3 separate regions of the Homo sapiens genome follow, and regions 1 and 2 are each linked to region 3. The links come from fine-mapping of genetic effects on gene expression. Tissue or cell type: whole blood. Region 3 holds a variant in brackets; each other region holds the start of a gene. All regions are shown on one strand. Distances are from middle to middle.

Evidence for each region. PIP is the estimated chance that this variant, and not a neighbour inherited with it, causes the effect.
Region 1: MED6 starts here. The variant in region 3 is fine-mapped to the expression of MED6 in whole blood (TOPMed, PIP above 0.99).
Region 2: MAP3K9 starts here. The variant in region 3 is fine-mapped to the expression of MAP3K9 in whole blood (TOPMed, PIP above 0.99).

What each region holds. Positions count from the first base shown.
Region 1 is chr14:70,598,518-70,603,077 of GRCh38, forward strand. MED6 (mediator complex subunit 6) reads right to left here and starts at 2,138. Exons shown (of 8, transcript NM_005466.4): 1 at 2,099-2,138. The coding sequence starts at 2,120. RefSeq lists an enhancer at 1,640-2,839.
Region 2 is chr14:70,807,683-70,812,242 of GRCh38, forward strand. MAP3K9 (mitogen-activated protein kinase kinase kinase 9) reads right to left here and starts at 1,831. Exons shown (of 12, transcript NM_001284230.2): 1 at 1,084-1,831. The coding sequence starts at 1,489. MAP3K9-DT (MAP3K9 divergent transcript) reads left to right here and starts at 1,102. Exons shown (of 2, transcript NR_184164.1): 1 at 1,102-1,605. RefSeq lists an enhancer at 393-452 and a silencer at 1,393-2,032.
Region 3 is chr14:70,652,879-70,658,127 of GRCh38, forward strand. All of the region lies in intron 1 of TTC9 (tetratricopeptide repeat domain 9), which reads left to right. Among named protein-coding and RNA genes, the nearest start is that of TTC9, 14 kb to the left of the region's middle. RefSeq lists enhancers at 643-1,229, 1,803-1,862 and a silencer at 1,603-1,742. The variant G/A (reference allele first, on the strand shown) is at 2,833.

The DNA.
Region 1 (4,560 bases), 55 kb before region 3:
ACCTGGGGAAACGAAAATCATTTTTCATGTGGAGAGAAGGTGGGTTTTAGCACGGTATGTTAAAGAATAAATAAAAACTTACACAGAGAAAAGGGCAAAGTAATTCCAAGCAGAGAGAATGTATATACAGAGGTGTAAAAATATAAAGTATATTATATCTTTAGAGAATAATTTCATTAGGTGAAGAAGTGATAAGATTTAAAATTTAGAAAGGACTTTTTTTTTTATTGGAAATCCTTAATGCTGGCAAGGAATTCAAAATTTTCAAATAACATGTATGCCCAAGAGAACACATCTATAGCTACCAGTTTGAGATCTCTCAATTAGGGATAGAGAAGTTAGGAAGCTATTATTGTAGATGAGATGATAATGATGTAAAAGCTAAGGGATAAACAGGAAGTAGAGTTCCCTTAACTACAGCCACACGGTTTCATATTTAGCGTAGAATTAAATCATAGCTTTTAAAAAGACATGATAGAGCTAGATACTTTTAATAAATGAGCTTGTATTGGCTATTGGCTTTCATGATGCTTCATACCACTGACTGTACTGAACACCACTAGGTGTAAATCATGAACATCAAAATGCCTATACAATACTGGTTGAAAAACTTCAATCTCTCTTATACTGTCATTACCTCAGGCATCTTCAAAGAAGTCAGACCTAATTCAAGGTGACAGGCAGTTTTGAGCCAAGTGACTCAACCGAGAAAAATTATATAAAGGTAAAATGTACTTTGTGTGCTATAAAATAAAGGAGGAGACAGATGAAGTGCGTTAATAACCAAATAATTAGTATAGACCATTTAGATAGTTCATCATAACTGGATCATGCAATAACCAAATACACAACAGGCCAGGAAATAACATTTTCAGAAATGGCCTCCTAACTGGTTTTCCTAATTCTACCCTTGCCCTCCTACACTGTTCCCAGCAGCCAATGTAGTCCTAAAAAAAAGTCAGATCACATCATTCCTCTGATGGAAACCCCTCCAATGGCTCTGCGTTTTACTCAGAGGAAAAGCCAAAGACCTTATCATAGCTTTCAACACCTTTCTGACTTCATCTCCTTCCCACATCCTCTCTCACTACCCTCCAGCCACACTGACCTCCTTGCTGTTCCTTTAACACACCAAACACACTCTTATTTTAGAGTCTTTGCCATGATCCTAACAATCTGAATTATAAGTAAAACATTTTATAAACTAAATATTTCTCTTTTTTATTCTGTAGCAAGGCAACATGTTGACATAGCCCAAGCATTCTAACAGCATTCTAACCATCAGCAAGTGATGAAATAAATAATGAAAGACACGTATGTAAAATCATGATCCAGAAGTGCTGCAGATCGCCAGATAAGTATAAATGAGAATATTTGTAATAAATGTGTTAGACCCCAATCCAGTTAATATTAAAAAAAGGCATCTCAAACATCTCCCTTTAAAAATCAAGTACTATATACACAAAAACAACTCTACATGCTCCCCAAGATCAAGCAGCAGTTAAGGGGTGACATCTCCATACATTTATTCACTGACTGATTCAATATTTGAGTACTTCTGCAGTTCAGCTGTGAAAAAAATACGACCCCTGCCCATAATAATTGCTGGACGTTCGATGTAAAGTATTATCGACTCAAAAAAAAAGAAAATATCTGGGATTCATGCTCAGGGACCCGTGTGGCGCGGTCTAAAGAATTAGGCAGCCACCATGCCAAGTCCCAAGAGATGAATCAAATCAAGTTGGCTTATTACCCCATTCCCTTCTCTGCCTAAACGCCATTCCTTCACTCCAATAGAATAGCCCTAATGTTGTTGCAGAGATACGTGTGTAGAACAAAACTCCAGCTCTGAAAGCTCAAAACCCAGAGCTTCTTCCAACCCCTTCTCTCCGACGCTTCCAAGAGACGCTCCAAGAACTCAGAAAAAAAAAAAAACTCGTCAACGTTTCGCTAGATCACAGCCTTGGGTTGTCCACAAAAACCACTCAAAAAAGCTTGAGACTTCACACAAAGGAACCTAAACCTTGAAACCGCGAGCTATAACATCCCAAACTGGTCCACAGACAATCAAGAGACAAAATATAGCAATACAGTATACCTCGGATATCCACCGCCGCCATAATTCCGAGAGCGTTTACAGGTTCTCTTTCCGGCGCAAAGTAAACGTAAGCCTAGGCCGCCGGAAGCAGCGGGTTGAAGAGAGTGCGCATGGGTGAGGAGGGACGTAGAGCGGAAGAGGGGGCGGGGCGGGCAGGAGAGAGGCAGGGGGTGGAGGTGCGGGTGGGAGGGGAGGAGACGCGAGGGGGCGGAAAGCGGGAGAGGCGCGGGAGGCGGGAAACGTGGGGTGGGGTGGGGTGGGGTGGGGTAGGGGAATGGGAGGGGACGGGACGCAGAAAGATTGGTGCAGGGGAGCAGGGAAAGACTAGAAGAGGGATGGGCCAAAGAAGGAGAACGGGAGGGCGGATTACTGGGAAAAAAATTAGAAGACTTAGAGGACAGAAAGACCGAGTGGAGTCCCGCCCCACGCCCACCACTGATGGAAGAATTCTGCCTTGATCGTCTGTGATCGTCAAGAAAACAAATTCTGATGCTGTAGAGTTGTGCTTGGGAGTGTCTCTTAATTTTAAAAGCTCCCCGGGTGTATCCACTGAGCTATCAGATTTAGGAACGATGGTCATTTATATTTTTCTCCCTGCCTCAGGTATTGGGATGGGACAGGACTTAAGAATTTGGGAGTCATTGGCTTTTATGTGACTAAATCCATTAAAAATCTAAACCAATTAAAGAAGCCTCTGAGAAAAATTTCACAACACAGGAAATGCTTCTGAAGTGAAATATTAATAAGATTAAGAGAAAGGGAATACCCCTGGGTCCCAGAGTAATGAGCAAATGTCTGCATTCCAAGTAGTCTGGAGTAGGTAGCAAGGCTCCAAAGAGGGAATGATTCTGTGTACGGGGAAGCTACAGAAAGCCTCAGATTCTCAAGCTTCAGTGTGGCTCTGTAAAAGCAAAACGATACAGAAATATGCAAACAACACACAGATACTAGGAAGAGGATGCCAAAATCTGAAGGAGGGATGAGGGCGGGTGCCTACATCTTCTCCAAAACTTAGGTACTGTGAAGACTCCCCAAGAATTTAACCACAACCCAGGAGCAAGAGGGGAAGACCAGAAATTTAATTGGGATTTTCAACCTCATAGACAAGGAATTAAAAATTTGTTAACTCCGTAGAATAAAAGTACGTTGCCTGTACATTTCAGTTTGGGAATTTTCTGCCTGAGATGGTATGTATAAAATAGGTGTCCCAACAGAAGTATGTGCATGCACAGAGTAAAGTTTTGAGAGAGAATTTTTCAGGAGGGCCTGGTTGGGAGCCTAGTGGGAGGACATTGCAAAAAGGAAGAGTATCGTGTCCAATAAAAAGTGTGATCCATAAAGCTTTTTGTTTTGTTTTTCTAGTTTTTTGTTTCCTTGTGTTTTGATTAGGCTAGAAGGAGATTAGGAAGAATAGTGACAGAATGCAGATCTGTAGATAATAAAACATATGGTATGCATGGTAAATAAGACCTGGAAGCTCAACCTTTATTTTGTAGGCAATGGGAGAAATGTGATCAAGCTTCCATTTTAGAAAGATAACTTGAGGAAGACAGGGCAAGGTGGCTCACGCCTGTAATCCCAGCACTTTGGGAGGCCAAGATGGGAGGATTGCTTGAGCCCAGGAGCTGGAGACCAGCCTGGTCAAGATAGCGAGATCCCATCTCTATTTCTTTTATATTAATTGTTTCAGTTAATAAAGAAATATAAATTAAAAAGTGTGGTAACAAAAACAAGAGAAGACAAGATAGGGAGGAAGCCACTTTGGGTAGGACAGTCAGGACAGGCCTCTCTGAGGAAGTGATACCTGAGATGAGACCTGGAAGATGAAAGCAAATCACTCATGTGAAGAGCTGGGGCACAAGCATATCAGACAGAGGGGACCATGGACCCTACAGTGGGAAAGGGGTTGGTCTGAGAACCACAGAAAGGCCAGTGTAAGCCGGGTTGTATGAGTGAAGGATGAATGATGGGAAAAGAGACTGGGAATGAAGGCAGGGGCCAGATGATAGAGAGCCTGGTCAATAATTTATTTTTTATTCAAAGAACATAGGAAGCTATTAAAAGATTTGAATGAGTAGAATGCCACAAAGGTTCTGACTGGAAATTTGTTTATGGATGTCAAAAGTATTTGTTGTGCTTATTGAGCCACTTACTATGGACGAGGCACTGTGCTAAGCACTTTGACGAACTATCTAGTTGTTCCCTCAAAACAATTTTATGAGGCAGAAGCTATTACTCCCATTTTTAAATGAGGAGACGGACTGAGGCAGATGAGCTAGCTTTTCACCAAACTTATTATCTACTTGGGTATACAGCTAAGCTATATTTTCCACCACCCTTGCACCTGGATGGAGCTACATAGCCAGTTCTCATCAAGGGACTGTGAATGGAAGTGATAAGTGTTACCTCCAGGCCAAGACAGTGAAAAACACTGGTTCCATCTTCACTTTCTCTCTCTGTAT
Region 2 (4,560 bases), 150 kb after region 3:
AACAATACCTTTTTAACAGATAAGAGATTATGGAAACTCTCAAATACAAAATAGTGTAAACTGCACTAAAGAGATATTTACATGTTTTTTTCTGAAATAAACTAGTATGATTAAGGGATTGTGATGGCAATTTAACTCCCTTGAAAAAAAAAGAAGATTTCATTATAGGGTATGAAATATGGGGCTCCTGGAAAATTGACGGAAACCAGGACACTGGGAGAAAGGCCCTGGGAGGGACCCCTGAGCATGGTCCCCCTGAGATTTGACCAGTTCCAAAGATAGGCAAGGATCTAGAATGAGAAGAAAGAAGAAAATGTATTTCCCAAACAGCCTCACTGTCAAAGGACTGGGATTCAGCCACTGTACCTTGCAATCCTGATCTCCCATGGGGGAACGACATACTTTTTCCTCTCTAATCATCACTTGTCTCACCCCCACTCTCAACACACACATCCCTCTTAGCACATTAATCAGTGAGACTCCTAAAGGTACAACTTCTGAGATATAAGAAATAGGATCCAAGAAATCAACCCGACATTTTACAGGCAACTGAGCCTTGAGTTCACACATGCTTCCGGGACTTGTGAGCCAGCTCAGCCCTGCGGAGACACCCCCATCTCTTTGAAAGCAAATGCCTTTAGGAGGCGGGGACAGGCGTTAGAAGAGGTGGTGGCAAGGTCCCTGATTTGGGGACTAAGGCTAGGACACTAACCACCATCTTGCCATAAACACTTCCAGATTGGGAATGGGGGGCGGCGGGGGGGTGGGTAAGAGAAGGGACTGGGAAACTGGCAAATTCTCAGACTGGGACTTCAGGATGTGGAAATCGGGAGCCACTGCTGAGGTGGCCAACTGAAGGTGAAGAAGCCCAAGCGTCTGAAGTGCGGGCAGGGCCTGAGGCGTCTCGAGCTTATCCAGCAAGCAAAGCCCGGGCAGCCTAAGCGCGCGCCACCCACACCCAGGTCAATCGTCCTCCCCACCCCCCGCCCTCATCCCAGCCCTCGCGCAGTGCTCCCCCCTTCCCCGACCGCCCCCCAGGCCTCCGTCATTCCCCCTCCCCGCCCGGCCCCGCCTTCGCCTTACACTGAATGGGCGGGTAGCAACTGGGGTCCTCGCCGCCGGGCTGGCAGCGGCTGGAGAAGGCGCTGCGCGGGGTCACGTAGTTGCTGGGGAAGATGCCCACCCGCTGGTTCAGCTGCCCGGTCCACCAGCCCTCGTCGCCGGACACCTGCGAGTCCTTGGACAGCACCTCCACCACGTCGCCCAGCCGCAGGGTCAGCTCGTCCTCGCCCGCCGCCTCGTACTCGAACACGGCCGTCCAGTAGGGCAGCGGCGCGTCGCAGCCCAGCTCCCCGGGGCCCACCGCCGCCGCCGCCTCCTCCTCCTCCTCCTCCTCCTCCTCGGCCCCGGCCCCTGCTCCATCCTCCCCCGGCGGGGCGGCAGCGGCGGCGCTCGCTAGGCAGCCGAGAAGCGCTCTGGAGGGCTCCATGGAGCGGCCGATCCATAGGGTGCGGGGCCGCCGCCGCCCGCAGGAGCCGCCGCCGCCTATTGTTCATGCGCCTCCGCAGAGCTGGGAGGACCCCCCCCCAACGACGGCGGCCGCAGGTAGGGCCCGGGCTGGCAGGGCTGGGAGAGCCGGCTCGCCGGCGCTGTTACCGCGGTACGAGAAGAGCGCCGAGCGCGAGCTCTTCGCGCAGCCTAGGGGCGCAGCGGGCCGAGTCCCCGCCTGCCCGCTCGCCCCCCCGGGGGCGGCCTCGTCACCTCTGCCGCCGGTACCTGCTCGCGCAGCCGGTGCCCGCCGCTGCCAGCCGGCCGCCGCTCTCCTCTCCGCGCCGTGCCGTGCCCCGCCCCCCGCACCGCCAGCTCGCCGGGACCACCTGACGCGGGCCTGGCTCCGCCCCAGCCCTGCGGACCCCAGGGGGCTCCGCCCCACGCCCGCCCCGCCCCGCGCCCGCTGCCTTCCCATTGGCTGCGGCCGCCCAGTCCCCGGTTCCTCCGCCGTGGTTGGGGCAGCCTAGCTGGCCGTCTCGCAGGTCCCTCTCACCCCCTGCGCCGCCGTCGCACCGTGCCCTCCCCCATTGCGGGCTCTGTCATTCTCAAACCCAGGTCGACCCACTCTTCCCGCCCACTGGCCCGCCGCAGCTCCCTCCATTGGCTCGCGGCACCTGTCCGTTTCCTGGGAGAGTTCAGCACCTCCCGGCAGGAAGAGGCTCCGGCCTCATTGGGTGCGTGAGAAGGGAAGGGTGGATCCTAAAAGGTAATACTGAGCCTTCATTCAAACTAAAAGGCTGGAAGGGAGGCAGCTGCCTTTGTTTGCCATGGATGGGTAGGGGCTGCACTGAGCAGCACCGGTGTTCTTCATCCGGCTGCACCCCCAACAGAGCTCTTTCTTCCCCAGATCCCTTTTACAGTTGGATTCTCCCTCTTGGATCTGGCTCTGCCTTAGTCCGACCTAGAGGGATCAGCTTCGCCCACGCCCACTCTCACCCGGAACCTTTCATCTCTTATTGAAGCCTTTTAGGCCCATTGGGATGTTCATTAGAACTCTGAAAACTACAGTTCTCCCCTTTATGAGGACTGCACCACAGCTCGCCCTCTCCTGGGTTCCGGTAAGAAGAGATTCCAATACCACTCTTTTTTCAGAATTCAGAAAGGCAAGAGACCACCTTACTGAGCTTCAAACTGGGGCTGGGAACGCTGCCATGAATTGGGCTTGGTCTGTCTGAAGGGAGCCACCTTTTCGACAATCCTTAGACTTCTTTTGCCTGTTGGAATTACACCTTGGATCGTGGCGAAGTCTATAGAGGTCAGATTAAGAAGAACCAAAGCAGAATAAACGTAGAACCCGATGCTGAGTTCACGAGTGAGGACGACCTCTTCCTATATGCTTTGCTATACCCTGCGTTTTGAACATTAAGGACGAGATAGGAGGCCCATAATGTTTCTTCTTGCTTTAATCCTGTCGTGGCAACGTTGACTTCCAGTAAGAAAGGTTCTCTGATCTTTTTTTCTCTTTTCTTTTCTTTTCTTTTCTTTTCCTTTCTTTTCTTTTCTTTTCTTCCAGGGTCTCAGTTTGTTGTCCAGGCCAGAGTGCAGTGGCGCAATCTCGGCTCACTGCAGCCTCAACATCCTAGGCTCAAGCCATCCTCCCACCTCACCCTCCCGAGTAGCTGGAAGTACAGGCTCGTCTTGAACTCTGGGCTGAAGTCATCCACCTGCCTCGGCCTCCCAAAGTGCTAGGATTACAGGCCTTAGCCACCTCACCTAGTCCTCTGAAATTTCTAAATAAGCCAGTGCTGAAGGATCTAGCCCAACTTCTACCAAACTTTGTTACCTTTTCCCCTTCAGTGGTAGGAATAGACATGATTTATTTAGCAAGGGTGAGTGCTTTTGTTGAATTTTAGTTTGGGGTTTATTATTACACAAACTAAAGACAGCGGGGCAATTTGGAAAGATAACTAGGCAGCTGCATGACTTCAGGCAGGTGTCCTAACACTGTACTCTTAAAGTGAGGGGAGTGAACTGGAAGATATCCTGTGTCCTCATAGTTTGAACATTCTGTGGTTCGCTCATCAATATGACTACACTGTATAGTCATAGCACACATTTGAGGTCTTGAAGAAGAGAGATGAGGCTTGTTCTAAAAAGCATCCAGAGTAGGTCTTGAAAAAGGATTTCTGTTTAAGTAAAGACCTAAAACAATGCTCAGATTCCTATTATACATAGGATCCATGAACTGGAAAAGATATGGATGAGTCTGAGTAAATTATCTAGGTTTTGTTTTAGACAAAACCATTCCACTGTCAAGCAGCAGAGAGCAAGGGAGTGGGGATGGAGGTATATTGTGTTTTTTTAAAGGCCATAAGAAAATAATTGTCTTGATAAAATTTTAACTTAGGACTGGGTATGGTGGCTCGTGCCTGAAATCTCAGCAGTTTGGGAGGCTGAGGCAGGAGGATCACTTGAGCCCAGGAAGGAGACCAGCCTGAGCAACATGGCGAGACCCCTATCTCTACAAAAAATGTTAAAATTTGCCAGGCATGGTGGTGCAAGCCTGTAGTCCCAGCTGTTTGAGAGGCTGAGGCAGGAAGATTGCTTGAACCTAGGAGGTCAAGGCTGTAGTGAACAGTGTTTGCTATACCACATTCCAATCTGGTGACAAAGCAAGACCCTGTCTCAAAAAAAAGAATTTTTTTTAACTTGAGGGAAAAAAAGTTTTACAAACTGTAGACACACAGCAAAACAGAAACAGGAAAAAAAGTACTAAAAAGAGAAAAATGTCAGTAGTGGGTCTCTAAGTAGTCGGATTATGAGTAATTGGGTAAGTTTATTGTCATTTTGCTTCTCCATAATTTCGTATGTTCTACTATTTAGTTTTGTGGATTCCTTCCCACTCCCTGGGAAGAGGGGAAGAGAGGAGAAAAATCATTGATTCTTCTCAATAGGAAAACTAATTCCCTGTGCAACTTAAACCTTTAATACCATAGCATGTGTTTAGAATCTCATAAAGAATCATTCATCAAACATTTCAACAAGTCATTCAGTTAATATTTGTTGAAT
Region 3 (5,249 bases):
GTGCCCATGAGGATGGAAGGAAGATAGAACACACAGGAAAAGATAGGAAGCAACCTAGACCTCAGAAAACCTGAGGGGTAATGTGGCATAATGGAAACAGGTCTTTACATAGTGAAATCTGAATCTGAATCCTAGCTTCCCTACTTCTTCCTCCATTAACCTTGGACAGGACCCAACCACTGTGGCTTCTGTTTCCATGACAGCATGTGAGTAATAATAATGTACCACATAGGATTGTTATGGTGATTAAATTAATGATACATGCACACATGCCTAGCACAGTGCCTGGCTCATAACAGATGCTTAACAGATGCTAGTTAATATTTGAATCTAACTCCTACTCCAGTATGCATGAAGACAGAGGAAAATATAGGGAAAGAGAGAGGGAAAGAATGCAGCAAAGAAGGCTATGGGGAAACACGGGAAGCAAGTGAGCAAAAAGGTGAGGACAAAACAGGGGCCAGGGGAAAGAGTGCCATCTCCCTAAGTGTCTGCAAGACAGGAGAGGTGAGAAGGTATAAGCCAACAGCCTTTGGTGTGGACATTGTCTACCACCATGCCTGGTGTATTCCTGGTCAAGGGAGGCTGAGTGAACATATAACTCATCAGTTAGTTGAAAGACCACAGAGTTCCACCATGACCAAGAGCCCATGGGTCAGGGGTCTATGCCCCTTCCAGCTTCTCAGGATTTGGGTCAGTCTAAGAAACACTTAGAAACTGTGGGTTCTAGGCACACATCATCTCCAGCCTGAGATTCTCCAAATGAATAAGGCTCAGTTAGACAGTGCCTGTTCCCTGCCACTTTTCACACTTTGCCCCAGGATTCCCCCTGACCCTGTCTTTGAAATGAAAAGCAGGGAAAGAACTTCAGGCACTCTCACAAGTCAGACCAGTTGAGAATCTGACAGCGGAAAATAAGGATTTGCCTGCTGGGAAGAGAAGATACATGCTGTGATCATTTGAGTCCCCAGGGGAGCTTAACAAGAAAGAAGGCTTTCTGGTGGGAAGAGAAACAGAGGATGGCAGAGGCTCATAGAAGGAGACATCCGACAGAGAAGCCATGGGGCTGGCAGCCTCGGGACTGCCCCACCCACCCTCTTGTGCATCAGGCAGATGCCAGCTTACTGAGCTTCCTTATTGGGGTAGGATGAAGAAAGTCCTTGGCTTAATCAGGCATCTTGGGAGTGAGAGCACTAGCAGGTGTGTCCCTTGGATCCGCTCACAGCTGCTCCTCCACCAAAACACCCAGGGTCCCTCATGACCCTAAGCATCCCCAGAACAGTGCCCCATGAAGAGGCAGTGCTTTCTGCCTAGGAAACCCTTCTGAATCCCTTTTCACACCTCTCCTCCCAAGTTCCTCTTCCCCTCATCCCCCAGCTCTCTCTGAAGGGATGATAATGGTTAGTGGTGACTTTTTAAAAATAGTTTCTGCCCGGGAGTGGTGGCTTATGCCTGTAATCCCAGCAGTTTGGGAGGCCAAAGTGGGTGAACCACCTGAGGTCAGGAGTTTGAGACCAGCCTGGCCAACATGGTGAAACCCTGTCTCTACTAAAAATACAAAAATTAGCCGGGCGTGGCGGTATATGCTTGTAGTCCCAGCTACTCAGGAGGCTGAGGCAGAAGAGTTGCTTGAACCTGGGGGCGGAGGTTGCAGTGAGCCGAGATTGCACTACTGCACTCCAGCCTGGGCAACAGTAAGGCTCTGTCTCAAAAAAAAAAAAAAAAAAAAAAAAAAAAAAAAAAATTCTAATTACAAAAGTAAAGCATCATAGTTGCAGAAGTTATTGATACTAAAAGAAAAACCTCAGACAAATTAAATTTAGCAGAGTTTAATTGAGCAAAGAATGACTCGTGAATCGGGCAGCCTCCCAAGCCCGAATAGGCTCAGAGAGACTTCAGTGCAGCCACATGGTGGAAGAAGATTTACGAAACAGAAAAAGGAAAGCCACCGTACAAAAAAATGGAAGCGAGGTACAGAAACAGCTGATACTTAACAGCTCTGCATTTGCCTTATTTGAACTCAGTTTGAACACTTGGTTGCCTTTGATTGGCTAAAACTCAGTTGATTGGCATAAGAGTAGGTTGCAGACTGTTTACACATCCAGCTAGTTTTCAGTTTACTATGGTTCCTTATGTACAAAGAAACCTTTAGGCCAAACTTAGACTATGTAAGGAGGCAGCTTTAGGCTAAATTTAATTTAGCATTGAAAATATAAGAAATTACAAAGAAGCAGCCCAGGCTCAGTGGCTCCCGCCTGTAATCCCAGCACTTTGGGAGGCCGAGGTGGGTGGATCACCTGAGGTTGGGTGTTTGAGAACAGCCTGGCCAACATGGGGAAACCCTGTCTCTACTAAAAATACAAAAATTAGCCAGGCGCAGTGGCGTGCACCTGTAGTCCTAGCTACTCGGGAGGCTGAGGCAGGAGACTCGCCTGAACCTGGGAGGCGGAGGTTGCAGTGAGCCGAGATCGCGCCACTGCTCTCCAAGCGTCGCTTGGGCGACAGAGCGAGACTCCATCTCAAGAAACAAAAAAAAAAAAACAAAGAAGAAGGTAAAACTCTGTCATTTACCACCCCAAGATGACAACAGTTAACCGTTTTGGTTTATTTCCTTGCCGTTTTTCTTCCGTGTGGGTGTATGATCATTTATATGTAAAACAAACATCAGCCAACCCCCTTCAGGTCTACCTTTCCCAGTGTATTTAGGAAACAAGGGGTTGTTCTCACGTGGGCTGGGGCCACTGCAGGGACCTCCTGTCTTTTCTCCCCTCCCCTCCCACAGGATGCTGCTCACTCTGTTTGCATGACAACCAAGGGGCCACTCGACTTCCT[G/A]TTGCTGCTACTTCCTTTTCACATTCCACAGCACCACTACACCCAGATGTATAATTTCACTAGACTTTACTGAAGGTTATGAGATGCAGAAGGAGTTTACATCTCAAAAATTGAATAGTAGAAATTCTTCCTCCTAAAACTCATTTGGCCATCAGACCACCAGGAATTTCAAATGGACCACTCACATTTTTTGGCAGGTTCCAGCTCCCCGCCATGCTGCTTGGACTCTTTCTCCCCGCCAGCTCCTCTCAGCTTCTTAGGTTTCCCCACTCTCAGATTCCCTTCATTTCATATACAAAGCAGTCTGGGCATCTTTTCATCTACGTGTGTGCCTGCTACTGACCTCTAAGCTTCACCTTCCCCACCTGAAGCAGTTGATGAAGCCAGTCTCCTCCAAAAAGATAATTTATTCCTTTAAACTCTGCTATAGATATTACAAATTCTTCACCCATACAGAAGGAGCAGAACTTTTAAAAGAAAAAATAATTCTTCACCCTGATACACACACACACACACACACACACACACACACACACATTTATTTTTCACAACATTCAGGTTTATACTGTACAAACTTTAGCAACCTTCATGTTTTTCCACCAGTGTTTTCATTGAAAATATTTTTCACCGTTCCACAGCATGATTGTAATGGCTGTGTAATGTTCCATTGCACCAATGTCCCATTATTTATTTAACTAATCTACTGATGGATACTTAGGTTATTTCCAGCATTCTGTGATTACAGCACAATGCTGCCAAAGACGTGCTCTTTCCGCTATACATGTGCCTGTTAATTATCCTATCCCCAAACACATCTGAGGACATGAGGGAAAGATGGTGGGAGAGGCAATAGGAACAGGGAACATGTCTCTGGGGCAGGAGAGGGGATTGAAATGGGAGACGTTCTTTAATGTCCAAAAAGAGAACAGGATAGAACTCTGGCTTCTAAGGTCTTCCCATTCTGGCTTAGAGTTTCTGCCAATGAACGTGACGTGTGTACTTGGCCAGAGCTGAGAAGGAAAAGATAATATGGGGCGATGGGTTTCTTCTGAATATTTCTGGGAATACACTCATCTTCACATTCCAAATGGCCAATCTGGCCACTCCAAAGTCCCGCTTCCAGACTGAGGAAGGGGTGTTAATGAAGATTCCAGCAAACAACAGCTCTGTCCTACCAACTTTTCACTACTGCCTTCTCCCTCTCTGTCTACTACACCAAAGTCAAGGGTGAGAGTAAGGGGCCATAGGTGGGATAACTTCTAAGTGTTCTGCCATAGCACCCAGATTGGTGCCAAAGGGCTGAGCTGACCTTAAGCTTTGGCATTACAACTCCCTTGGGCAGATTCCTATATGCTTTAAAGGACTGTCAATGTAAGCTTTCAGCTTACAGGATTTTATACTGACTTTCCATGCAGTTCTTTTACCTGCCACTTTGACAGCTATTTTTGCCAACAGAGGGTAATTAAAAAGAATATAAACTCCTTGAAGATATCAATATCTCTTGAATGCTTTCCATATTCCTTATGAAGCCCTGGGCACAGGCCACGATGAGTGAATCCTTATTGACTAAGTTTACTAAGAGTGCCTACCCGAAATTGTGTAGTGATGATGCGTGGGAAGCAGCAGCTCTGGTAGTGATCCCAAAGGTGGGGCATCCATGTGAAGAATCAGAGGGATTCAAGGGAGCAGCTTGGTTATGATGAAAAGGAGAGATCTCCAAAGACAGTGTTGCTAAAACAAAGAAAACAAAAGACACACTTGACAGTGTTTGTTTGAATCTAGTGCAAGCACATACTAGAATGGAAAAGTGGAAGGTCAGAAATTAATGTGAATGGAATCAAAGGAGATTTAGCCCCCTAGATAAAGCCAAACAGCTCCTGGCAGTAGAAATAGCAGCAGCAGTAGTGGGAGACTCTCTGGGCAGCAGGCAGGAGAAATAGGTATTGGAGTGAACAAAGAAACGGCTACTTGTGGGCCAGACACGGTGGCTCACACCTGTAATCCCAGTGCTTTGGGAGGCCGAGGCGGGCAGATCACCTGAGGTCAGGAGTTCAAGACCAGCCTGGGTAACATGGTGAAACCCCATCTCTACTAAAAATACAAAAATTAGCCAGACCTGGTGGCAGGCACCTGTAATCCCAGCTACTTGGGAGGCTGAGGCAGGAGAATTGCTTGAACCCAGGAGGCAGAGGTTGCAGTGAGCTGAGATAGTGCCACTGCACTCCAGCTTGGGCGACAGAGCGAGACTCCATCTCAAACAAACAAACAAACAAACAAAGAAACAGCCACTTGGAGGGTGCTAACTCTCTGAGCCAGAGTTCTCAGTCCTCAGACTTGATAAAGACCTTCAGAGATCAGCCAGTCCGGGTTTCCACCATTACCACCAGCTCTGTTGGATTGGAACCAATATGGGATTT